4 linked regions of the Homo sapiens genome follow. The protein of the gene in region 2 interacts with the protein of the main gene of each other region in a biochemical or structural test. Each region holds a gene or a part of one and is shown on either strand. Other genes may lie near its edges.

What was found.
Region 1: the proteins of KLK2 (region 2) and SERPINB6 form a complex in vitro, tested with the Homo sapiens proteins (one study listed by BioGRID).
Region 3: the proteins of KLK2 (region 2) and SERPINF2 form a complex in vitro, tested with the Homo sapiens proteins (one study listed by BioGRID).
Region 4: the proteins of KLK2 (region 2) and SERPINA3 form a complex in vitro, tested with the Homo sapiens proteins (one study listed by BioGRID).

The regions. Positions count from the first base shown.
Region 1 is NC_000006.12:2,968,543-2,975,547, forward strand, and holds the start of SERPINB6 (serpin B6), read right to left. Parts: upstream 3,026-7,005; 5' UTR 2,991-3,025; exon of another isoform or gene 2,607-2,990; coding exon of another isoform or gene 2,575-2,606; exon of another isoform or gene 2,263-2,574; coding exon of another isoform or gene 2,216-2,262; intron 2,182-2,215; exon of another isoform or gene 270-2,181; coding exon of another isoform or gene 237-269; intron 1-236.
Region 2 is NC_000019.10:50,868,961-50,876,456, reverse strand, and holds the start of KLK2 (kallikrein-2 isoform 1 preproprotein), read right to left. Parts: upstream 3,019-7,496; 5' UTR 2,984-3,018; coding exon 2,938-2,983; intron 1,737-2,937; coding exon 1,577-1,736; exon of another isoform or gene 1,491-1,576; intron 1-1,490. UniProt on the Homo sapiens protein: Glandular kallikreins cleave Met-Lys and Arg-Ser bonds in kininogen to release Lys-bradykinin.
Region 3 is NC_000017.11:1,752,825-1,755,765, reverse strand, and holds the end of SERPINF2 (alpha-2-antiplasmin isoform a precursor), read right to left. Parts: intron 1,645-2,941; coding exon 1,232-1,644; 3' UTR 501-1,231; downstream 1-500.
Region 4 is NC_000014.9:94,607,491-94,615,390, reverse strand, and holds the start of SERPINA3 (alpha-1-antichymotrypsin precursor), read right to left. Parts: upstream 3,001-7,900; 5' UTR 2,944-3,000; exon of another isoform or gene 2,852-2,943; intron 2,045-2,851; exon of another isoform or gene 2,022-2,044; intron 1,356-2,021; exon of another isoform or gene 1,152-1,355; intron 958-1,151; 5' UTR 950-957; coding exon 307-949; intron 1-306. UniProt on the Homo sapiens protein: Although its physiological function is unclear, it can inhibit neutrophil cathepsin G and mast cell chymase, both of which can convert angiotensin-1 to the active angiotensin-2.

The sequences.
Region 1 (7,005 bases), on a different chromosome or scaffold from region 2:
TTTGATTCCATTTTGCCTTCTATACTAATTCTTTGGATACCACAATTATAGTTTATTGAGTCTTCCGTTCCCTGCGCTGCCTATCTCTGGGGTCCTTTTGTTATGGTGGCTGGTGTTTGCTTTATTTTATTTAGGTCTCTCTTTTGTACCTAGACTTTCCAAACATTCCTAACAACCCTTGGATGTCAGTACATAGTTAAGAGGAAAACACAAACAATGCTGGAAGTTCTGTTTACATGGAGGAAGTTCTGTTTACATGGACAGGACATGTCAGCTGGGAGCTTCACTGCAGTGTGCTCAAGGGATCAGCAGCTTTTTTGTCCGGGAACCAGCAAATGGGAGAACTCTTCGGTGTGGCTATCGGTGGTGTTCTGGAAGGAGATGGGGTGGAAGCAGATGGGGGTCGGGGGGCTTCTACTGGATCTGTAATCCCCTCACGTCCCCACTGCCTCCCCCACAGTGCCTGCAGGACCCTGAGTTTGAGCATTTTCATTATCACTTCGCAATAATGCATAAACACTGAACAATTAATCATAAAAAAGATTGGAGAGATCCAAATCCTAAAAGGAAAGAAAAAATAAATCCACATTTAAAGTTTACCACTCAAGATACTCCAAATATCAACAAATTATAAACAATCTAGTGAGATTTTTCTATCGAGGGCTTTCTGTTATCCTTTCAGCAAACGTGTGAGTAACAAGGATGCCTGTTTCACAGTCACGTTGCAAACTCAAGACCTGTCAATGGCTTTTTAAGGACCTACTTCTTTAGCTTCAGTAAATAAGATAGCTAAGTGTCCTTCATATATATATGTGAATACACATGTATATATGTACATAGACAAATATTTATGCAAAATTAATTGTTTCAAAATTTAAAAACTATACCATTTAAAAATAAAAAATGATATTTAATCACAGACATAAAAACTGGATATTAAAGTCTTATTAATGAACAATTTTATGTATTTTTTAAACAAGCCTAACAAATCTATCCTGGCATCACTTTTTTTTTCCTGTAGCATCACCAGTAACTGAGCAATGTTCACAATTGATTTTATTCAACTAATCAAGTCTTAATTTTTTTTTAGGTGTCACTATTGAATTGTGCTTCTCAACTTCTATTAAGGATGCCTTTATTTCCTACTAAATTTAACCATTTAAAGACTGGTTTAATGGAAACTTGGACTTCCTGCTTTGTCCCTCTGTTTCCTTGTGCAGTGTGTATGTGTGTGTGTGTGTGTGTTGTGTGTGTATGTGTTTAATATATCTGAGCAGCCTAACATATAAATGGGAGTTAAACATTATTTTCAGGCTAGGCGCAGTGGCTCACATCTGTAATCCCAGCACTTTGGGAGGCCAAGGCGGGCAGATCACGAGGTCAGGAGTTTGAGACCAGCCTGGCCAGCATGGTGAAACCCCATTGCTACTAAAAATACAAAAATTAGCCAGGTATGGAGCCCGGGAGGTGGAGGTTGCAGTCAGCCGAAATCGCACCACTGCACTCCAGCCTGGCAAAAAAAAAAAAAAAAAAAATTTTCTTTCTTTGGATGCCTTGGCTTAATCCCAAGTGCAGTAAGCCTGGAAATGTAAGGTGTGTGGTCTTCCCTGGGACCGTACAACATCTGCTTGGGTGCCCTTATTATTACATATGTGGAAAAGAATGTTGGTTCTATTCATGCTAATTTCACTCTACTGTTACTGGTCCGTGTTAACTGTTTCATGCTGAATTGTAATAAAATGCATTGGAATTGGCCTTAACTTAAAATACTTAGTTTACATAGTCGAGTATGACCAAAGTACTTTTCTCTTTGGTGGCACATCACAATGGATGCAATTACTCAGATACGGTCCTGAAATGAGAACAAACGCCATCTATGCTGATAACAGCAGTCACTGGTGTTAATCCCAGCACACATAAAAGCCCCAGCAATACAAGGCCGGCCCAGGACCTTAACTAGAAGGTCACTGAACACATCAGATCTCATCGCATCAGGCCTGACCCCCACCAGAAAGGATGCAGGCAGCTGCAGGGCTGTCATTAGGCACGAGAGCATCCCAGAAAGCAAAAGTGCCCAAAAAATGGACTCAGATGCCCCCTCGCATCTGAGTATTCCTGACAGCATGTGAACATTAATTATTAATTTTCTGTACCTCAGTTTTCCGAAGCCAATCTTTAGGACAAAAAAAAAAAAAAAAAAAAGGAAGAAAATAACTTAAATGCCAATTTGTAGTTAAAGTTTCCTCTTTGCCTTGAAGACATCAAAGCCTGTAATAGTTTGCCTGTAGGGAGTTTAATTCAAACACAGAGCGGTAAGGAGATCCGGGCTGGTCCACACGATCGTCTCCACAGGTCTGGGCGACCTGAAAGTGCTGCGGATTGGCCAAGCCCAGCACGGCCAGTCCAGTGAACACACGCAGGGGGCCCGGATGGCACCGTTTGGCGCCGAACCCCTCGGCCTCTCTCCGCCTCCCGCCCGGCTCCTAACACCCGGCGCCCCAAGACTGAGCACGCGTCCTCCGGGTCGCGGAGCGGGCGAGGGGTCACCGAGGCCGCGGGGCCGACCGGGGTCACCTGTGGCCCGGGAGGCTCTGCGCCGCCCCCATCCCGCGCCGGCCGCCTCTTCCGTGGGCGCTGGGCCTGGGCGCCCGGGGTCCTCGGGTCCGCGGCGTCACCGGCCGGGCTCGCGGCCACGCACGACTCACCCGGCCGCGTCGCCGTTCTCTGCCGCTGCGAGGCTCCGGAAGGGAACCCAAGCCGGACGCTCGCCCGGGCCCCCGCCCCGCTGGGACTGCTGGGGTCACAGCCCCGCGCGGCCACGCCCCATTCTCGGGGCTCCAGCGTCCCCGCGCGCCGTCGACCCACGCGCGTTCCCGGCCCCGCGCGACCCCCACCCTGCCCCCCTCCCCGCTCGCGCCCCCGGCTTTCCCGACTTTGGAGCGACAAACCCAAGCCAGCGTGTCCGAGCGGCTCCCAAGCCAGACACGTACTCCAGAGCGGGGAGCGAGCGAGCAGAACGGCGGGCAGAGGCGCCGGAGCCGCCCCGGACCTCAAATACTCGCGGGGAGGCGGGCGGAGTCCCGGGTCTCGAGCTACCGTCGCCCGTCCGGAGCGCGAAGGGAGAGGCGGGGCGGGACGTGCGGGTCAACCCCACCCGCCAGCCGGAGGGGCCGCGAGTCCTGCCCGGAGGCCTTGACTTTGACCACAGTACAGGGCCCCACCAGCGTGTTTATGGTGCCTCTGTGGAGACTGAATGCTGGCCTGTTTCCAGAAAAGGGCCGGCTCCTGATACACGGCCATCCACTGGGGAGTGCAGAACACGCATTTAAAAATGAGCAGACTAGATACAGGTCACAAAGACTTTGCTGATGAAACAGCTTGCGGCAAAGAAGCCAGCCAGGGGCGGGCGCGGGGCTCACGCCAGTAATCCCAACACTGGGAGGCCGAGGCAGGCGGATCACTGGAGGTCAGGAGTTCCAGACCAGCCTGGCCAACATGGCAAAACCCCGTCTCTACTAAAAATACAAAAATTAGCCGAGTGTAATGGCGCGTGCCTGTAATCTCAGTTGCTGGGGAAGCTGAGGCAGGAGAATCACTTGAACCCGGGAGGCAGAGGCTGCAGTGAGCCGAGATGGCGCCACCGCACTCCAGTCTGGTCCGTCTCAAAAAAAAAAAAAAAAAAAAAAAAAAAAAAAGTAGACTAAATAGCTTTTGCAAAGCAAAAGGAATAGTCAAGCAGAGTAAACAGACAACCTACAGAGTGGGAGAAAATCTTCACAATCTATACATCCGACAAAGCAGTAATATCCAGAATCTACAAGAAACTCAAACAAATTAGCAAGAAAAAAAAATCCCATCAAAAAGTGGGCTGGCATGAATAGACAGTTCTCAAAAGAGGATATGCAAATGGCCAACAAACAAGAAAAAATGCTCAACATCACTAATGATTAGGGAAATGCAAATCAAAACCACAATGTGATACCACCTTACTCCCGCAAGAGTGGCCTTAATCAAAAAATCAAAAACTCAAAAAATAATAGATGTTGGCGTGGATTTGGTGAAGAGGGAACACCTCTACACTGCTGATGGATAGTACAACCACTGTGGAAAATAGTATGGCGATTCCTTAAATAACTAAAAATAGAACTACCATTTGATCCAGCAATCCCACTACTGGGTATCTACGCAGAGGAAAATAAGTCATTATACAAAAAAGATACTTGCACACGCATGTTAATAGCAGCACAATTCGTAATTGCAAAAACATGAAACCAACCCAAATGCCCATCAATCAAAGAGTGGATAAAGAAACTGTGGTATGCGTATACGGTGGAATGCTACTCAGCCATAAAAAGGAATGAATTAATGGCATTGGCAACCTGGATGGGATTGGAGACTGTTGTTCTAAGTGAAGTAACTCAGGAATGGAAAACCAAACATTGTATGTTCTCACTCATAAGTAGGACCTAAACTATGAGGATACAAAGGCATAAGAATGATACAATGGACTTTGGGGACTTGGGGGAAAAGGGTGGGAAGGGAGTGAGGGATAAAAGGCTACAAATTTGAGTTCAGTGTATACTGCTAAGGTGATAGATGCACCAGAATCTCACAAATCACCACTAAAGAACTTACTTGGCAGGGCGCAGTGGCTCATGCCCGTAATCTCAGCACTTTGGGAGGCCAAGGCAGGCAGATCATGAGGTCAGGAGTTCGAGACCAGCCTGGCCAGCATGGTGAAACCCCCGTCTCTACTAAAAATATAAAAAAATTAGGCATGGTGGCACACATCTGTAGTGCCAGCTACTGAGGAGGCTGAGGCAGGAGAATTGCTTGAATCTAGCAGGCGGAGGTTGGTTGCAGTGAGCTGAGATCATGCCACTGCACCCCAGCCTGGGCAACAGAGCAAGACCCCATCTCAGGAAAAAAAAAAAAAAGCTTGCCATGTAACCAAATACCACGTGTTCTCCAAAAAACTATGGAAATAAAAAAACTAAAATATATATTAAATTTAAAAATAAATGTATATAAATGAGCAGAGCCCACATCATTGAGCCGTGTGTTCAAGGACTTCCAGTTCTCTCCAGGCATAGGAATTAGACCCCAGGGTACTGACAGGTTAGCCAAGTAAGTATGAAAACTCCATCTGCCATCTCAGACAGAGCAGTCTTGGAAAACAGAAACATCTAGCATAAATGGAAGTAGGGAAGATACTAGCCAGGTGTTTTACATGAGTTCAATTTTGAGAACTCAAGCTGTTTTACTCCCTCTGTGCTTACCCTAAGGCAGAGTTTCTCAACTGCGACACTGTTGACCGCATGAACCCGATAACTTGTGGTTGTGGGGGCTGTCCTGCCATCACACATGTTTCACAGAATCTCTGGAGGAGATTCACCAAGTGGATGCCAGGAGCAAACCACACGCCCCTCCCTAGTTGTGGCTTAATTAGTCTTAAGTGATATAAATTGCGAATATTTCCCCCAGCTTGTCATCTGTTTTCTGACATTGCTTCTGGTGATTTTGGCATACACTCTTTTAATGTAGTCAACTTTAATGATTTTTCCTTTATTGTTTCTGAGTCGTAGTTAGAAAAACTTTCTCTATTCACAAGGAGCAATCTCTTTTTTTTTAAAAAAAAGAATAATCTCTAGATTATAGAGTTCACTAATGTTTTCTTCTAGTATTTGCACAGTTTTATTTTTTATATTTAGATTGCTGATCCCTTTAAAGTTTATTCTGGTGTATGGGAAATATAGATCCAATTTTAACTCGCTTTCAAGTGACTTTCAGTTTTTCCACCTCTGTTTATTGAAAAACCATTTTCACTAATGTCTTCACATGCCACCTATGTTATATATCAAATAGCTGCATATACTTGGGTCTGATTCTGAACTTTCTAAACTTTCTATTTGGTTCTGTTGGTCAGATTCTTTCAGTTATAGAGGTTTTCTCTTATGATTCAATATCTCGTACAGCGCATTCTCCTTACTGCTCTTCTGCTTCAGATTTTCCTGGCTCTCCTTGTTGCTTTTTCTCCCATACAAACTTTTTTTTTTTTTTTTGAGCTGGAGTCCCTCTCTGTCACCCAGGCTGGAGTGCAGTGGTGCGATCTTGGCTCACTGAAACCTCCATATCCTGAGTTCAAGCGATTCTCATGCCTCAGCCTCCCAAGTAGCTGGTATTACAGGCGCATGCCACCACACCCAGCTAATTTTTGTATTCTTAGTAGAGATGAGGGTTCACCATGTTGGCCAGGCTGGTCTCAAACTCCTGAACTCATGATCCACCCTCCTCAGCCTCCCAAAGTGCTGGGATTACAGGTGTCAGCCACCGCACCCGGCCTCACCCATACAAATTTAAGAGTCAACTTGTCTAGCTCTAAAGAAAAAAATCTTGTTGGCAGGGCATGGTGGCTTACACCTGTAGTCTCAGTACTTTGAGAGGCCAAGGCAGGCAGATCACTTGGTCAGGAGTTCAAGACCAGCCTGGCCAACATGGTGAAACCCCATCTCTACTAAGAATACAAAAATTAGCTGGACCTGGTGGCGTGTGCCTATAATCCCAGCTGCTTGGGAGGCTGAAGCAGGAGAATTGCTTGAACCTGGGAGGCAGAGGTTACAGTGAGCTGAGATGGTGCCATTATACTCCAGCCTGGATGATGGAGCGAGACCCTGTCTCAAAAAAATATATATATAATAATTAAAAAAATAAAATTAAACTGTAGTCAAACAGGCCAGATGCAGTGGCTCACGCCTATAATCCCAGGACTTTGGGAGGCAGAGGTGAGTGGATCACCAGAGCGAGACTCTGTCTCAAAAACATAAAATAAAATAAAAATAAAATAAATGAAAATAAAAATAAATCTTGTTGGTAATCTATTAGAAACATATTGAATTTACATATTACCCTGTTATAAACCAACATTTGTACTTTGATTTAGTTGTTCTAGCCAAGAACATGCTGGGTCTTTCTGTTCCTTCAAATAATTTTTTTCCTTTTTCCTTT
Region 2 (7,496 bases):
GTGGATGCATGAGGAGAGAGAAAATGGGGAAAGGTAGATGGGGCAGGGGAGGATAAGGGAGACTCCAAAGGGAAGAAAAAGAAACAGTGAGAAAAGCACAGGGGTCGGGGAGATATAGTCGTGGTGAAATACAGACAGTGAGTTAGAAAACAGGAGTGTGATCATGTGAGAGGCAGAGACAGAAACTGAAAGAAACGAAGTGGAAAAGAGAGAGCATAAAATGGCAGAGGAATGACAAAAACAGAAGGGAGAACAGTGAGAATTAGGATGAGCAAAGAAGAGACAGAGACAGCAAGAAATAGACATGGGGAAGAGGAAGGGAGAAAGAACAGAACCAGGAAGGGAGTGAGAAATAGACAAATGAGAAAAGGATGCGGGAAGTCAGAGAGAGAAGGAGAAACAGCAGAGAGGAAGCCAGGGGTGATACAGTGTGGGAGAGAAAAAGGAGGGAGGCCACGGGGGCATCTGAGGAGTGTGGAGTAGCAGGGGGAGGAGGAGAGGCATGAGGGTGGCTCACCTGCAGCTGGGGCTGGAGTGAGGGCTCTGTAGTGGCGGGTGGCCCGGCCCACAGCTCAGGGCCACGTCCCCCTTTCTCTCTCCAGCTCCCTTCCCCTCCTTTCGATTTTTTTTGTTGTTTGTTTGTTTGTTTGTTTTTTCTGAGATGGAGTCTTGCTCTGTCACCCAGGCTGGAGTGCAGTGGCACGATCTCGGCTCACTGCAACCTCTCCCTCCCGGGTTCAAGCGATTCTCCTGCCTCAGCCTCCCTAGTAATTGGGATTACAGGCGCGCAGCACCACGCCTGGCTACTTTTTGTATTTTTAGTAGAGACGGGGTTTTGCCATGTTGGCCAGGCTGGTTTCAAACTCCTGACCTCAGATGATCCACCCACCTCGGCCTCCCAAAGTGCTGGGATTACAGGCGTGGGCCACCGTGCCCGGCCACCTTCCCCTCCTTTCTTGTTTCCCCTTCTCCTTCCTCCCTCCTCAATTGTGCACCCAGCTACAGCTGAAACCAGCCCTCCCTGTGTCTCCCCAGGGTGGAGGGATGTCCTGCAGAGAGTGCTGTGCAATGACAGGCACCCCCTCACATGCACACACATTGAGCTTAAAGTCCTTCCTTTTTCTGGGTGCTCCCCACCCACCCTCACGGGGTGTGTTCAGTAGTGATGAGGAAGGGCTGAGGCAGAGACCCAGAGAGAAAGACAGGCAAAGAGATGCAGGGTGAGACACACGGTGACAGAGATGGCCACAGAGAGACCCAGAGACAGAGACGGGGGAGACACAGACACAGGGAGACAGAAAAGAGAGAGGGACATAGAGACCAAAACACAGTCATACAGACACAACCAGAGCCAGATACCAAGAGACACAGCGAGATCAGACACAGAGAGAAACCCAGGCAGCCATGGGGAGAGTGGTCCAGCCCCAGCTCTGCCTCCGGGTGCGACCTGGGCCAGGACCTTCCCTCTCTCCTTTAGTCTGAAGCCTCACCTGAGAAGTGACCCTGGGGGAAGCATCCCGCTGTTATTCCTGTGGGACACAGCCATTCCCTCCCCAGATCCCAGGGTCCTACTTACTTCTTTAGGCAATGGGCAGCTGTGAGCACCCACTGGGGGTGCACCAGGACACCCCCACAGTGTGCCCATCCATGACTGTACACAGCCACCTGCCAGGGTTGGGAATGCTTCTCACACTCCCAGCCTCCCACAATCCGAGACTGGATGAGGGGCACGGCACCTGCGGAGGGGGTGCTGGGTCAGGGGGATCAGACCCAAAAGAATTGGATAGGGGAGGGAGCTGAGCTGTGGGTTTGAAGAGACATGGGGGCAGAGGACCAGGACTGGGAGTCCAGGACACAAGCAAGGGGTCCTGGGAGGGCTGGCAATTCTGTAGCTATTCCCTGCGTTAGCGGGTTGGTGGCTGGACCAGGTCGGGAGGCTTCATGCTCTGAGAACGGAGCTGACCCCAGAGATCAGAGTAGGGGACATGGGAAACATCTGAAGCAGGCATCGGGTTGGGGGTTGGGTCATTTGGAGTGATTTGGGGTCTTACACTGGGAGAAGGGACACTGTGGTGGCAGCTGTGGGTTCTAAGAGAATAAGAGGTTCCAGAAACCAAGGATAAGTGCCCAGTGGAGAGGTTTAGTTGCTGGGAGAGGAAGGTTTTGGATGGTTTACCATGTCCAAGGTTAAGCAAACAGTTCTGCCTGAGTTGTTTCTTGCTTTGTTTTGTTTTGTTTTGTTTTTGAGGTTTTGAAAAGGGTGCGGATTTAGGGAATCAGAGAACTGGCCGTTGTGGTTGGGGGTGCTCGTGTTTTTCCCATGGAAAAAGCTAGCCATTGAATGACGGGTCTGGGGCAAAGAGTCAGGGAAGGAGGAGTTCTGAAAGTCCCAGTGCCAGACTCAGGGTGGGAGGCAGCATTTGTTGTCTCAGGCCAGATAGCCTCGGGGGGAAGAAGGAAGTGTCTGGTGGAATCTGGGTTTCCTGGGACAGGGTTGGGGAGCCAGGTGTCAAGGTCCAGGGGACAGGGTTGAATGCTCACAGCTGAATAGGAAAAGTCAGTAGACTGTGGTAGGACTGAGGGGCTCAGGAGGCAGCCCAGTGATAGGGTCCAAGGAACCAGTGGCATGGAGAGAGGTCCTTGAAAGGTTTTGAACCCCATAAAGAGAAACACAGAGATGCCCAGGAACTTGCTCTTTAGTAAAGCAGCTGGGAGCAGGGATTTGGCTGGGCAATGGAGAGAAAGGTCTGAGGTAAGTGGGAGGGAGCGGGGACCTAGTGTGGGCATGAGGACTATTGCAATGTGGAAGAGTCAGGGGCACATTGTCTGGGCTGAACTGTGGGCTGAAGGGACGAGGCTGGGGCACTGGGTGGGAGGAAAAGGGCTTCAGCATAAGAGTCAGAACCCGCCCCCCTTCCTTTATCCCCCCAATCTCACCAGTGCACCCCACAGACAAGGCGATGGAGAGAACCAGGTCCCACATGCTGACACAGGTGTCCACGGCCAGGTGGTGAGTTTGGGGCTGGGGGGCCTCCCTGAGGAGCCCTATAAAGCCTTCATTCTCCAGGACCCCGCCCTTGCCCTGTTGGCACCTAGATGCTGACCAAGGCCCTCCCCATGCTGCTGGAGGCTGGACAACCCCCTCCCACACCCAGAGCTGTGGAAGGGGAGGGAGAGCCAGCACTTGCTGTTCCACACATACTAGATCAGTCTGGAGGCATTCCCACGGTGTGAGGTCAGATTGGGCAGGGCCTATGGATCATGGAGATGTGATCTAGGGAACAAAGCCAGAGAAGGCAGGCTCAGGATGAACAGCAACAGGGGTTGGGATGATCACTGATTCTTTTTTAAAAAAATTCTGAGACAGTCTCACTCTGTTTCCCAGGCTGGAGTGCAGCGGCGTGATCGCAGCTCCCTGTAGCCTTGAACTCCCAGACTCAACCGATTCTCCTGTCTCAGCCTCCAGGATAGCTGAGACCACAAGCATGCACCACCACATCCAGCTAATTTTTAATTTTTTTGTAGAGAGAGGGTCTGGCTATGTTGCCTAGGCTGGTCTCCAACTCCTGGGCTCAAGCCATCCTCCCACTTCGGTCTCCCAAAGTGATGAGATTACAGGCGTGAGCCACCACGGCCAGCCCCAATCATTGATTTTCAATACAAAGTCTCATGTGCCTAAGTCCCAAGTACTTCCTTTGCACCCCAAACCTAATATGCCCTGAAATATCAGAATGATCGGATTGTGAGACTTCCTGGTCCCTATACCCGTCTGAGCCCAGAAGCTGGACCTCCAACTTACCATGTTCCTGAAATAGAAGCGTTGGCATTCAGTACTCTCTGATTCTTGCACTTCCACACTCAGAAAATGGTTCCCCACATACATTTCTCCCTCATCATAAAACCTTGTGATACCACATATTGTCCAATCCAGAAATATGACTCTCCCAGACCAAGTTCCCTATTATTTCAAAATCCAATGTCCACTAAACAATATGGGGTTCCGGTGGCTCCTCACTCCTCATTCTCCATGCCTGTACAACGTACAGGTACAGCGGGGATTCCTGTTGACCTGCCCTCCTAGGTCAGAATTGTCCTCATGCAAAATCCAATGCCTCCTTCTCACTGAAATGTCTAGCTATCAGGAGCCAGGTTTATACACTCCAAGATTAAGCTGCAAGCCAGGCACGGTGAGTGGCTCATGCCAGCAATCCCAGTGCTTTGGGAGTCCAAGGCTGAAGAATCACTTGAAGTCAGAAGTTCAAGATCAGCCAGGGCAACAAAGTGAGACCCTTTCTCTACAAAAAAAAAAAAAAAATTTAATTAGCCAGGTGTGGTGGCAAGCACCTGTAGCCCCATCTACTCAGGAGGCTGAAGCAGGAGGATCCCTTAAGTCCAGGAGGTCAAGGGTTCAGTGAGCTATGATCACACCACTGCGCTCCAGCCTGAGTGACAGAGCAAAAGACCCAGACTGTGTCTCAAAAAAAAAAAAAAAAAAAAAAAGAATTAGGGTGGCATTGAGAAATCTCATTTTGGTGTCTCAGAAAAGAATCAAGAATAAGAGTCCTGGTGTTAACTCTTATTATAAGAGTCCACTGTTAACTCTATAAGATTTCTTTGATTTTGAAAAAAAAAATGTGATTTCATCTGTTCAATAAAACCAGAGCAGCTTACGCTGATCCAGACCCAGCTGTGTCTCAAGAATTTGACAAAATCTTCCCCCATTTCCAGCTGAATGACCAGATCAATTCCAAGTACAGTGAAGGAGACAGAAGTGGACATAGATAATCACAATTCAAGACCAGGATAGAGGGATATTCACAGCCAGTGGCCTGATTTCCCCCACACAACCACTCGTTCCCTGGAATGACCGTCTGAAAGGAAATTTGCCTCAGCTTGAATGAGAACCACCTGAATCCAGTGTCCCAAGCATATCCTCATCCCCATGATAACCTCAACCAAAACCTGACCCAAACCAATTTAACACAGCCCAATCCAACCACATCACCCACAAGCCCAACCCATCAACCCAACACAACTTAATCTAATTCAAGACAACCCTAATAGCCTCCTTCATTTAAAGATCAAACCAAACTAATGCACATCCTCGCATGCAATAGCCAGCTCCATGTATTCTATCTCCAAAACTAAACCTACTTCATCCCCAATTCAATCCCCACACCCTTCCCAGCCAACATAAAAACAAACCTATTTCCATCCCAAAGCCATGCCATCCCAAACCACCTTTAAATTGCCAATCCCCAAACTCATCCGAAGCAGAATTTTACCCCATCTGTAACTCAACTCCAACCTGACCCTCCATTCTAACTGGTCTTCATACTCCGTTTTCAATGCTATATCCAGCACTTTATCTGGCCAAAGGAGATCAAACACAACCACATCCCACTTCTCGAGCCAGTCCACAGCCTCCTCCCCACCCGTCATGGCCCCCTCTGGGCTCTGACCACACAGGAGTCCGTGCCTTCACCCGCTCTTCCTGCACACACCATGGTGTTCATCAGGGCCCTGGGTAGTCCCTGTTACAAGATGTGGTACAGATGAAGCTGATGCTGGCACAGTGCCTCGTATCTGGGAGACTCACTTGGGAGGACAGTGGAGTGGGGCAAACCCGTAAGTTCAGGCTCCTGTGCCCTCCACCCAGAAGTCCTTGAGATTTCATGGACAGCGACATATGGCCATTCTCTAGCACCTTTCAGTCCTGGTTTCCTGTGGTTCTAGGATCTTTATCGGACACCAGGCCCCGGCCTGGCACCACGCAGGCCACATCCACCAGGGGACGCACGTCCACAGCTCCATGGTTGGGACGTGACGGGAGAGGCGCGCTGCAGGGATAGTCGCAGCTACATGACGTCATGGCGCCGGCCTCGCCCGCATAGTGCAGATGCTGAATGATGAGTGGATGATGCCCCAGGCCTCGGGACATGGCACATGTGCAGATTATACTCGCGCAGGCGCACTCTTGTGGAACTAGAAGAGTAGGTGATTACCCTCAAGTGGAGTAAGGAGTAGATGGAAAGATCAAAGCATGGGCAACTCTCAGTCCTCTGACCCTTTGAGAATCAGGAGATTCCATTACCTTCACACCAAACCCTGGAGCCAATGGTTCCAGTCCTTGCTTCCCAGGGACCCACCAAGGAGTCTCAAGCTAACAAACCCCTGCAACTCAACCCCTCACAATTTCAGCCCCTTCTTCCCGAGGATACGGGATTCTTAGACCTCTCAGGCCATTCCCACGTCAGTACCTCGGAAGCTGGGACCTTACCAGTCTCCTCCCTTGGGGATTTAAGAGTTCAGAACCCACATTCCTCCTCTCCAAGGACATTCACCTCCAGCCTCTTCCTCCTTCGGAACCAAGGAGTATGGGCCCCCTCTGCACTCAAGCCCAGAAGTTCTGATCCCCACCCATGTCCCCTCGAAATTCTGAGCACTCCCTTATTCTGGGGTTGGCAGTGGGGCACTGCCAAACATGGTGGGGAACTGGACCTAGAAATCTTGGTTAGGCACAGTGAAGCCAGATGTGGTAGACACACTAATGATGGGATGTTAAGACTGTCCTGCAGACAAGAGTGGAAGGCTCTGGGTGAACAGTGTTGGGAGACAATTTTCCATGGTTCTCTTATGTTTCTGTGTGTCTTCTGAGCAAAGGCAATAATACCGTTTTCTTTTCTGGACCATCTTTTCAAGCATATTTGTACAGCAGATAGCCTTGCAAGATGGTATCGCCTTCAGATCTAGGTTTGCTTACTGCCTTAGATAATAAAGTTAACGTCTATTTTACAGCAGATTTGTTTACTGTTCAGGACAATAAATACAATATGTTCCTCCAGAGTAGGTCTGCTTTCAACCCAATTATAAAGATAATATCTCCGTCAGATACAAAGACTGGACAAGTTTGCTGGTACCTTCTTATAAGATTGAGGATTTCTAAGCCTAGGTTGCTCACCTTTGCCACAAACCCCTGTGTCCATCCACCTGAACTGCTCTGATCATCCCATATGAATTGGGGGGCAAAGTGAACAAATGTGAACACAAAGTTCATGCTGCCTCCTTAGCTGTGGGTAATAAAATCTTTTGCCTCTGACCCAGGAGTCTCATGAGTTCTACCAGCACAAAACTGGCAGGTTAGCTTATGTGTTTGCAAGTCGGTAAAATGTCAGCTCTTTCAGAGTTCTTTTTTTTTTCTCCCCTGTAGGATACACATTTATAGTTCTCTGCAAAGAGTTAGGTACTGTGGCTACACCTGGCCAGCTGGAGATGGAGCTGGGAAGAGTGGGCAGTAAGACTGAGGAAGGGGAGAGGGCACAGAGAGATTATGATGGGCTCCTGGTATCATAGAGGAAGTCTGAGATAACCTCAAAGTCAAGATCTGAGATAGGGGGTCAAGGAAAGTGCATCCCCCTTTCCGGGGCAGAGACATCCAGCCATAATTTCTCTGCAGACAATGTCTAATCATGGTCCTCTGGAGCCCCTTGCATCCA
Region 3 (2,941 bases), on a different chromosome or scaffold from region 2:
AGGAAGGTGTCAGCCCTGTGCCAAGGTTTCCCCACCTGCTTCCCCCAAATCCTCAGGCACTGACTGTCTCCAGCTGGAGCTGGGTACTCCCGGCAGCCTGCCCCCGGCTGGCGGGCACCAGCTCCTGGCAGAGGGGCTGGTGTGTAATTAGAAGCTCCACAAACTCCCTAATTGCCAGTTCTTCTCCCAAACCAGGAGGCTGGCGCTGTTCTGAGCCGCCCTGTTGCCGGCTGCCTGAGGCATAGAGAGAAGAAGAAGCCAGGAGCAGAGCCAGGCTGGCGTGGAGGTGTCCCGGGGGAGGGCTGGCGAGGTCAGAGGGGACCACGGGGTGGAGGATGCCTGGCGAGCGGCCAGAGGCCAAACGTGGCACTGCGCGGGCTGCCACCCCTGCTGGGCCCAGGGTTCCTCAGCACAGTCCACCCTGCGGCCGCCTCCCTGCCTTCCCCACCATCCTCACTTGTCCCCACCCATGCCCAGAACGGTGACATCAAACCAGCCAGGCCCATTCATTCTTTATTCAGGTGGCATAAAAATCACTACAAAAACCTTACAAAAGAGCCTTAAGGAGCTCATGGGATCCTTCCCTGCCTCGGTTCCTGAGCTCCCGGGCAGAGGAGGGAGACAGGAGAGGAAGGAAGGGAAATGCTGGCAGTGTTGGGATCTCGAGGAGCCGTGGGAAGTCTGGCGTGACAAGGCACAGGGGGTAGGATGGAGGCTGATGGACTCTCGGCAGGTTAGGCCACAGCCAGGCTGTGCCAGACACGAGTTCCACGCGGGGCTGAGGACAACGCTTCGCCTCCCGAGCCACCACCAGGGCCCGTCTCTCCCCACCCTAGCCTAGGTGTCCCGGGACAAGTCCAAAGGCAGCCCTCTCCCCCTCCCTTTTTCTCTGGTAAACAAAAGTCGGGGTGTCCCAGCTGACGTGGGGAGCAGCTAACCTGTCTCCTGGCAGAACTAGAAGCACCTCCCTCCTGCCCAGGCCCCGGTGCAGGACACCCTCTGAGCCTGTTTGGAAGAAAGATGAGGGTCAGGCTCCCGGCTCCCCGATGCCTGCCCTCCTCCCAGCCGCGCCCCCCCCCCACCCTAAACTCCCCAAGAGGTGTTGGGAAAGAATGGCCTCTCTCAGACTGCCCCCGGCCCCTGCCCCAGTGCCACAAAGCCGGTTGGAAAGAGTCACATGAGTGGAGAGGCTGGTCCAGGCAGGGACTCTGGATGCCACAGCCACGGCCCCTCACTTGGGGCTGCCAAACTGGGGGTAATCCTCCTCCATGGGGGGCACAAGTTTTAAGTCAGGGCCGAAAAGCTTGTCTCCGCGGGGGAAGCCTTTCAGGCTCTGGAGGAAGTCCTTGTTGCCCGGGGAATCCTGCTGTTCCTTGAGCTCCCGCGGTGCACTGGGGTTGGGGTTCCTCACGCTGCCCACGAAGAGGGGAAGGCCTGTGGTGTCCTCGAAGATGAAGAAGAGGAAGGGGCGGTTCACGCTGAAGGAGGACAGGGACATGCGGGACATGGCAATGCTGGTGGCCGCCGCCGCCTCCACGCCGACCTCGCTGAGCTCCAGGGTGGACTGATGCTGCACGCCGGACACCACCAGGCTCTGCTCGGAGATCCCACGCAGGTCTGGGGCCTGGAACAACTCCTGCAGGCCTGCCCAGGGCCAGAGATGGCTGGTCAGAGCTGCCCTTGGCCTCACAGGCTCCTGGAGCTGCTTGGGAGGGTGTCTGAGATCCTGGCCAGGGAACAGCTTGAACTCACAGATACCTGCTTCATTCCTATCCGGTTTCCAAGACTCAGCTTAAACACCACCTCCTCCAGGAAGCCTTCCCTGATCCCCAGCTCTAAAGTCCAACCAAGGTACATTTTCAGTGTTCTCCCAGGTGAGCTGGAGAGAAGCCCTCTCTGTCTTATCGCTTATGCTGTAGTAAGTATGTGATTGCTCGTCTGCCCACCCCATTAGACTCAGCTGTTTGTACATGGTGGGCTCCCGGTACCTGGTACAGTGCCTGGAATACAGCAGCTGCTTAGCAAATGGCTGAAGGATAGATGCTTTATTTATTTATTTTAGTTATTATAATTTTTTTTTGAGATGGAGTCTCACTCTGTCATCCAGGCTGGAGTACAGTGGCGTGATCTCGGCTCACTGCAACCTCCTCCTCCCAGGTTCAAGCAATTCTCCTGCCTCAGCCTCCCAAGTAGCTGGGATTATGGGCATGCGCCACCACGCCCGGCTAATTTTTGTATTTTTAGTGGAGACGGGTTTGGCCATGTTGGCCAGGCTGGTCTCAAACTCATGACCTCAGGTGATCCACCCTCTTTGGCCTCCCAAAGTGCTAGGATTACAGACGTGAGCCACCATGCCCGGCCTTTATTTTTATTTTTGAGACAAGGTCTTAGTTCTTTTGCTGAGGCTGGAGTGCAGTGGCACAATTATGGCTCACTGCAGCCTCAGCCACCTGGGGTCAAGAGGGCCTCCCACCTCAACCTCCCCAGTAGCATGCACCACACCTGGCTAATTTTTGTATTTTTTGTAGGGACGGAGTTTCAATGTGTTGCACAGGCTGGTGTCGGACTCCCGGGCTCAAGCAATCCACCCACTTCAGCTTCCCAACGTGCTGGGATTACAGGCATGAGCCACTCCACCCAGCATTTCTTTAACAGTGTGACACCCCAGCTTCTCCTCCTTCCCCTTCCAGGGAAGCCAGCGAGGCTCACATGCCATCCCAGGCTCTCTACCCAGACTCTCCTTGCAATGCGAGGTCTTGGGCAGCAAAGCAGAGCCCCATTCCCCGGGCCACCCCAACTTCCTCTAGGACAGAGGGTCTGGGGGCTCATATTCAACCCTCTCCCCGCTCCCGAAGCCCTGGAAAAGAGCAGGACACAGGACAGCTCTGACTCAGCTCCACTGCCAGCCAGACGCTTCCTCCTTACCCGCCCTGCCCAGCCT
Region 4 (7,900 bases), on a different chromosome or scaffold from region 2:
TGAAAGGAGAGCTCCTTCTTTCTGTTTGCCGGACAAGTTTAAATCAGAGTGAAAAGCACCACACTGACTCAGACCAGAGGCTGATGGGCTCCACTGAATTATGTCTTCCAAGGACAAACTGTAATTTGGAAAAACCCCACAGGAGACGGCGATGCCTATGGGCAGGGTGGGGCCTTGATGCTTATGCTGCCCCCATGCTGTGGGCACTCTCCTCTACAGTGGTTTGCCTAATAACACCATTGTTGAGTCAGGACAGAAATGGCCCTGAGATCCACCTCTTCTGAACCCCAAGCCAGGCACACTCACCTTTAAAGAAGATGTAATTCACCAGGACCATCATTGTCTGCGAGTCAAGGTCCTTGATCAGATCTGTGATTTTCCCCCTAGTTCCATTCTTCACGTAGTCGTTGATGAGCTTCTTAGCTGCAGCTGAGTCCTGAAAGTCAGTGGCAAAGGCCTCGGAGCCATACAGCCTCTTGGCATCCTCCGTGAACCTGTCCAGCAGACTGAGTTGCTCTTTGACAAACATGGCATTTCCCATACTCAGCTGCAGCTCATCGCTGGACTGATTGAGGGTGCGCAGGAGGTGCTGGAAGCTCTGGTGAATTTCTGCCTCAGAAGTCTCCGTGAGGTTGAACTTGAGGCCTTTGAGAATCTCTGTCAGGGTGGTATTATGGGCCCCCAGAGACAGGAAGGCCAAGGCGGTGGAGATGCTCAGTGGGGAGAAGATGACATTCTTATCAGGGGCCTTCAGGACTAACTGCTTGTACAGGCTGAAAGCGAAGTCCACGTTGGCGGAGGCTAATCCGAGGTCCACGTGTGTCCCTCGGTCTTGGTTCTCCTGGGTCAGATTCTCCTCGTCAAGTGGGCTGTTAGGGTGGCAGAGGACAGCAGGGCAGAACCCAGCCGCCAAGAGCCCCAGAGCCAGGAGAGGTAACATTCTCTCCATTCTCAACTCTGAAAAGCAAAGCTCCTTTAAGTCTCAGAGGGCCAGATGGAGCCCCGACCACCTCCCACTGCCCTCCACCCAGCCTGCGTCCTGGTCCCTGTCCTGCTGCCTCTTGCTAGCTTTGGAGCCTCCCTCAGGTAGGTGCTCTCTGGGGCACCCGACACACATCACTCTGCTTCATTTCACCCTTTGAGGTAGGTACCATAATTGTTGCCATTTTCTTGCAGTGGAAAAGCCGGGCACAGAGCGGTGAGGGGGCTTGCCCAAGATCATACAGCAAACAGGTAAAGGAGCCCAGTGGGCAGCCAGGTTTGCCTGGCTCCTCGGTCTGTAAGCTGATGGGGGGTCCGAGGTTCAGTCCAATCAGAATGCCTGCTCCTCTCCTGCTTGGTGAGCAGATCTCATCCTAGGGGATTAGAAAGCAGGGGCTCCCTTCCTTCATTCTCCCAACTGCCACCAAAGTAGAACCCAGGGATGAAGGAGCCCTGGGCAGAGATAGAGGCCACAGTGACTCTCCCAGCCTCTAGATGTCACGTGGTGTGGCCTCCACAGGCCTCCACGATGTGATGCTGGGTGGCAGTGAGGGTCGACTGAGAGAGGGAAATGAAAGTCCCTGGTACAGTGTCTGGAGCCTCGATGGCCCTGATAATGGTTGGCAGCAAGACCAAAGAAAGGCAAATGTTCTTCTCTGCCCCTGCCAGGTTGCCACGTGGTGTCTGTGTCCACCATAAGCCTGGAAGGGCCTCTTAGTGGGGAGAAGGCAGAGAGGGCTTTGGAGTCTCCCAGACTTGGACTGGGATTTTATTTTGGCCACTTTTGATTGCTGTGTACTGGCAAGCAGGTGACTGTACATCTCTCAACCTGTTTCCGTCTCTGCACAACCTGTTAAGTGGCTCAGGTGAGATAAATGATGAAGGCACCTGGTTCATATTAGACGTACCGAGCAGTCACCACCTCCCATACTACCCCTTTCCTGAAACTACAAGCCAGAGAAGAGCCATGAGCTACTGCACAAGAGACCCTGGAAGGGCTGAGTTCCAAGCCGGTGACCGCAGCAAACAAGATTATTCACCTTCAGCCTCCGCCCACTCAGTCCTAGAATTCAGAAGAGAAAAGGGGCAGCTTGGGTGCTGGGGAGAAGAGTGGGGAAGAGAGGCGATTGGAAGGGAGGGGAGGGGAGAGGGGTAGAGAGAGGAGAAGAAAAGGGGAAGAGAGAGTGGAAGGAAGGGAAGGAAGGAAAGGAAGGGAAGGAGGGGAAGGAGGGGAAGGAGGGGAAGGAGGGGAGGCCAGTGGAAATGCCTTTGGCCAAGCCCAGGGACAGAGGCACCTTGTTTGCTTCAACTGTTCACTCTCAGGCTGATGCAATCATTTCTCTGGATAAATGTTAGACAATATTTTTCTCCAGAATTATTTCAGGGGCAAAGGCTTGTCTTTTCTGTTTGGGCAAGTTGGAGGGCTGGCTGTTTCCCAGCAGTTTGTCTTTTCTGTTGCTGGACAGAGACACAGCCCATCTGTCGACTTGGCCAGGGGTCCTTTTGGGGAAGTGGAGCTCCCGAGGCAGCCCCATGGAGACCCTGAAATCATGGTGAGGCCTGTGGCCTCTGCTCAGAGGGACCTGCTGCAATAATCACATCTGCCACATGTTCTGAGAGCTGCACCCTGCTCCAGGCAAGGGGACAGCACCTCTTCCCTGAGGGTCAGATGCACAGCTGACTCAAATCCGAATCTGTAAGTATCAAGGCAGAAATGACCATAGAGGCCCCAGGGCACCTCCACCCTTTGCAGGTGTGAAAACCCAGACACAGAGGATGCCTCTAAAAAAGGCACAGGGAATCAGTGGCAGCCAAGAACAGACCCCTGGCCCCTAACACCTGAGTACACCTCCTCCTGGCCTCTGCTTACCCCTCACACTCCACACACTCCAGGCTGCTGCCTAAAACTCTCCTGGAAAAACAGATTCCTCCGCTCCCAGGATGTAAAACATCATGGATTACCTGCCTCAGGGAGCTGGATGTAGCTGGTGGATTCCAAAGCCGTCTGTCTGGAGTAGTGGATTTTCATGAATGCTGAGGCTTATTTATTCCTGCAGAGAACTCCTCCCCCTGCTTGGGAAATGCCAGGACAACCAAGTGTTCTGTTCTCGGACTGGAAATGACCAGATGATAATTTCTGGTAATACGGGCTTGTTAGACCTACTCAAATAACCTGGTTATGGGACTAGCTCTAATCTCTTCCTCCAAAGGTCAAAAAAGCACACAGAAAAAATCCTTTGTTGTATTAGTTTTTATCTGCTTATTAAATACTCATTGAAGAACATGGAAAAACTCAGAGAATGTAAAGAAGGACTTTGGAAAATATCCCCCAGCACTTTACTACCCAGAGAAGACCCCAGCTAACATTTTGGTATATTTCTTTTTTATTTCTTTTTATTTTTTATTTTTATTTTGAGACAGAGTCTTGCTTTGTTGCCCAGGCTGGAGTGCAGTGGCGTGATCTCAGCTCACTGCAACCTCTGACTCCCGGGTTCAAGCAACTTTCTGCCTCAGCCTCCCGAGTAGCTGGGACTACAGGCACACACCACCACGCCCAGCTAATTTTTGTATTTTTCGTAGAGACAGGGTTTCACCTTGTTGGTCGGACTGGTCTTGAACTCCTGACCTCGTGATCTGCCCACCTCAGCCTCCCAAAGTGCTGGGATTACAGGCATGAGCCACCGCACCCAGCCACATTTTGGTGTATTTCTAAAGCACTTTTCTTTGGTGTCTCTGTGTGTGTGTGTGTGTGTGGCTGCATGTGTGTCTGTGTGTCTGTGTGATGTGAATGTCCATATACAAACCTAGATATATTTTTAAAATACAGGACTCTATTTTTCTGTGGATCAGTTTGCATTTTTGGCACCCCTTCACCAACCCCAGAGAGTAGGGCACCTAGAGAGGGGTGTGGAGGGGAGCTTTCGGGGAGCACAGGTGTTGTGAGGAACCCCTTGTCCTCAGGCTCTGTTTCTCTGTGGGGGCCTCCTCAGCCTTGGCCTCTGTCCTGCTGAGCCTCTGCGATTGGTTCACCCCAACAAGTGGTTGTCCCTCCTCCCCGGCCTTCAGGTATCCTTGGGCCTCTCTCTTAGCTAGTCTGGGGTCTTTCTTTGGCTCATGAAAAAGGAAAAAAAAAATCCTGGGCGGGACTAGTGGCTCATGCTGGTAATCCCAGCATCTTGGGAGGCTGACGTGGGCAGACCACCTGAGGTCAGGAGTCCATGACCAGCTTGGCCAACATGGCGAAACCCCATCTTTACTAAAAATACAAAAAAAAAAAAAACAAACAAACTAGCAGGGCATCATGGCGCATGCCTGTAACCCAGCTACTTGGGAGGCGAGGCTGAGGCAGGAGAATCGCTTGAACCCAGGAGGCAGAGGTTGCAGTGAGCCAAGATCACGCCACTGCACTCCAGCCTGGGCAACACAGAGAGACTCTGTCTCAAAAAAAAAAAAATCCTTCCTCTTGATTCCTCATGGTCACAGTCCCCATCCGGGGTAGCCCTGACAGGCCTCTCTAGAGGGCATGCTTTGGAGGCCACCAGACCAGTGGCGAGGTTCTAGCTCTGGCATGAGCTGACCTGGCTTGAATCTCTGATGTCTGACTCACCAACTGACTCACTTCAAACAAATCATGGGAAATCTCTACAGCTTAATTTCCTCATGTCTAAGATGCAAGGCAATATTCCCTGACAGAGTGGTAATCAAGATGAAATGAAATGATATTAAATGTACACTCTACGAGGACAGGATTTTTTGTTTGTCTGTTGCGATAGTGCTGCATCTTTAGAGGACTTACATATTTGTTGACTGTAAGGCACTAAGATGACCAATAACTGTCTGGGCCCATCTTTCTTAAATGACTTTCAGGCTCCCAGTTTTGGAATTGAATGTGTGTGTGTGTGTGTGTGTGTGTGTGTGTGTGTGTGTGTGTGTCTTTATATATATATCTCTCTCTATGTGTGTGTGTGTATATATATACATATATACGTATACACATATATAATATATTATATATTTTTATATATATATTATATATATATATATATATATATAGAGAGAGAGAGAGAGAGAGAGAGAGAGAGACTCGCTTTGTCACCCAGGCTGGAATGTAGTGGCGCAATCATTGCTCGTTGCTTACTGAAGACTCTGACTCCTGGACTCAAGATATCCTGCCGCCTCGACTCAAGATATCCTGCCGCCTCAGCCTTCTGAGTAGCTGGAACCATAGGTGCACAACGCCATGCCTGGCTAATTTTTAAATTTTTATTTTTTTGTAGAGGCAGGGTTTCATTGTGTTGTCCAGGCTAGTCTTGAAATCCTGGCCTCAAGGGATCCTCCCACCTCAGCCTCCCAAAGTGCTGGAATTACAGGTGTGAGCCACTGTACCTGGCCAATACATATGTTTAAGTTACACAGAATCCTAAAGAAATAGTTGCTAAAATGAGACTGAAGTTCATTTCCCTCTCCTGCAGGTCCAGCTGGAGGCAGTGGGTTGATATGGTGCCTCCACGTTGTCAGAAACCACGTCCTCCTGTCTGGTTGCTCAGCTGCCCCTCCACGTCTGTTTGTCTAGGCTAAGATGGCTCACTGCTATGTCCACCTTCCAGTCCATAGAAAGGGCCACAGGGGAAGGGAAGGGCACACCCTTTCTTTTGAAAGGAATGCCTTGAACATTGCCTGTCATTCCCACTTGTGTTGTGTTGCCTGGAGTTTTGTCCCATGGCCATACCTAGCTACAAAGGAGGCTGTGCAGTGCAGTCAAGATTCTAGGTAGCCACCTCCCAGCTAAAAATTCAGAGTTCCATTACCATGAGAGAGACAAAGAGAGTGGACATTGGGGATGACTAGTCATCTTGCCTCAGAGCATTATCTGAGTGTTCTCAAGTTCTCCGGCCTCAGAGCATCATTTTCCTTCTTTCTTTCTTTTCTTAAATTATACTTTAAGTTGTGGGGTACATGTGCACAACGTGCAGGTTTTTTACATAGGTATACATGTGCCATATTGGTTTGCTGCACCCATCAACTTGTCATTTACATTAGGTATTTCTCCTAATGCTATCCCTCTGCCAGCCCCCAACCCCCCAACAGGCCCCAATGTGTGATAGTCCCCTCCCTGTGTCCATATGTTTTCGTTGTTCAGCTCCCACTTATGAGTGAGAACATGTGGTGTTTGGTTTCCTGTTCCTGTATTAGTTTGCTGAGAATGATGGTTTCCAGCTTCATCCATGTCCCTGAAAAGGACATGAACTCATCCTTTTTTATGGCTGCATAGTATTCCATGGTGTATATGTGCCATATTTTCTTTATCCAGTCTATTATTGGTGGACATTTGGGTTGGTTCCAAGTCTTTGCTATTGTGAATGGTGCCACAATAAACATATGTGTGCATGTGTCTTTATAGTAGCATGATGTATAATCCTTTGGGTATATATCCAGTAATGGGATTGCTGGGTCAAATTGTATTTCTAGTTCTACATCCTTGAGGAATTGCCACACTGTCTTCCACAAAGGTTGAACTAATTTACAGACCCACCAACAGTGTAAAAGCATTTCTATTTCTCTGCATACTCTCCAGCATCTGTTGTTTCCTGACTTTTTAATGATCCCCATTCTAACTGGTATGAGATGGTATCTCATTGTGGTTTTGATTTGCATTTCTCTAAGGACCAGTGATGATGAGCATTTTTTCATATGTCTGTTGGCTTCATAAATGTCTTCATTTGAGAAGTGTCTGTTCATCTCCTTCGCCCACTTTTTGATGGGATTGTTTGTTTTTTTCTTGTAAATTTGCTTAAGTTCCTTGTAGATTCTGGATATTAGCCCTTTGTCAGATGGATAGATTGCAAAAATTTTCTCCCATTCTGTAGGTTACCTGTTCACTCTGATGATAGTTTCTTTTGCTGTGCAGAAGCTCTTTAGTTTAATTAGATCCCATTTGTCAATTTTGGCTTTTGTTGCCATTGCTTTTGGTGTTTTAGTCATGAAGTCTTTGCCTATGCCTATGTCCTGAATGGTATTGCCTAAGTTTTCTTCTAGGGTTTTTATGGTTTTAGGTCTTACATTTAAGTCTTTAATCCATCTTGAGTTAATTTTTGTATAAGGTGTAAGGAAGGGATCCAGCTTCAGCTTTCTACATATGGCTAGCCAGTTTTCCCAGCACCATTTATTAAATAGGGAATCCTTTTCCCATTTCTTGTTTTTGTCAGGTTTGTCAAAGATCAGATGGTTGTAGATGTGTGGTGTTATTTCTGAGGCCTCTGTTCTGTTCCATTGTTCTATATATCTGTTTTGGTACCAGTACCATACTGTTTTGGTTACTGAAGCCTTGTAATATAGTTTGAAGTCAGGTAGTGTTATACCTCCAGCTTGGTTCTTTTGGCTTAGGATTGTCTTGGCTATGCAGGCTCTTTTTTGGTTCCATATGAAATTTAAAGTAGTTTTTTCCAATTCTGTGAAGAAAGTCAGTGGTAGCTTGATGGAGATAGCATTGCATCTATAAATTACTTTGGGCAGTATGGCCATTTTCATGATATTGATTCTTATTATCCATGAGCATGGAATGTTCTTCCATTTGTTTGTGTCCTCTTTTATTTCGTTGAGTAGTGGTTTGTAGTTCTCCTTGAAGAGGTCCTTCACATCCCTTGTAAGTTGGATTCCTAGGTATTTTATTCTCTTTGTAGCAATTGTGAATGGGAGCTCACTCATGATTTGGCTCTCTGTTTGTCTGTTATTGTTGTATAGGAATGCGTGTGATTTTTGCACATTGATTTTGTATCCTAAGATTTTGATGAAGTTGCTTATTGGCTTAAGGAGATTTTGGGCTGAGACAATGGGGATTTCTAAATATACAATCATGTCATCTGCAAATAGAGACTTGACTTCCTTTTTTCCTAATTGAATACCCTTTATTTCTTTCTCT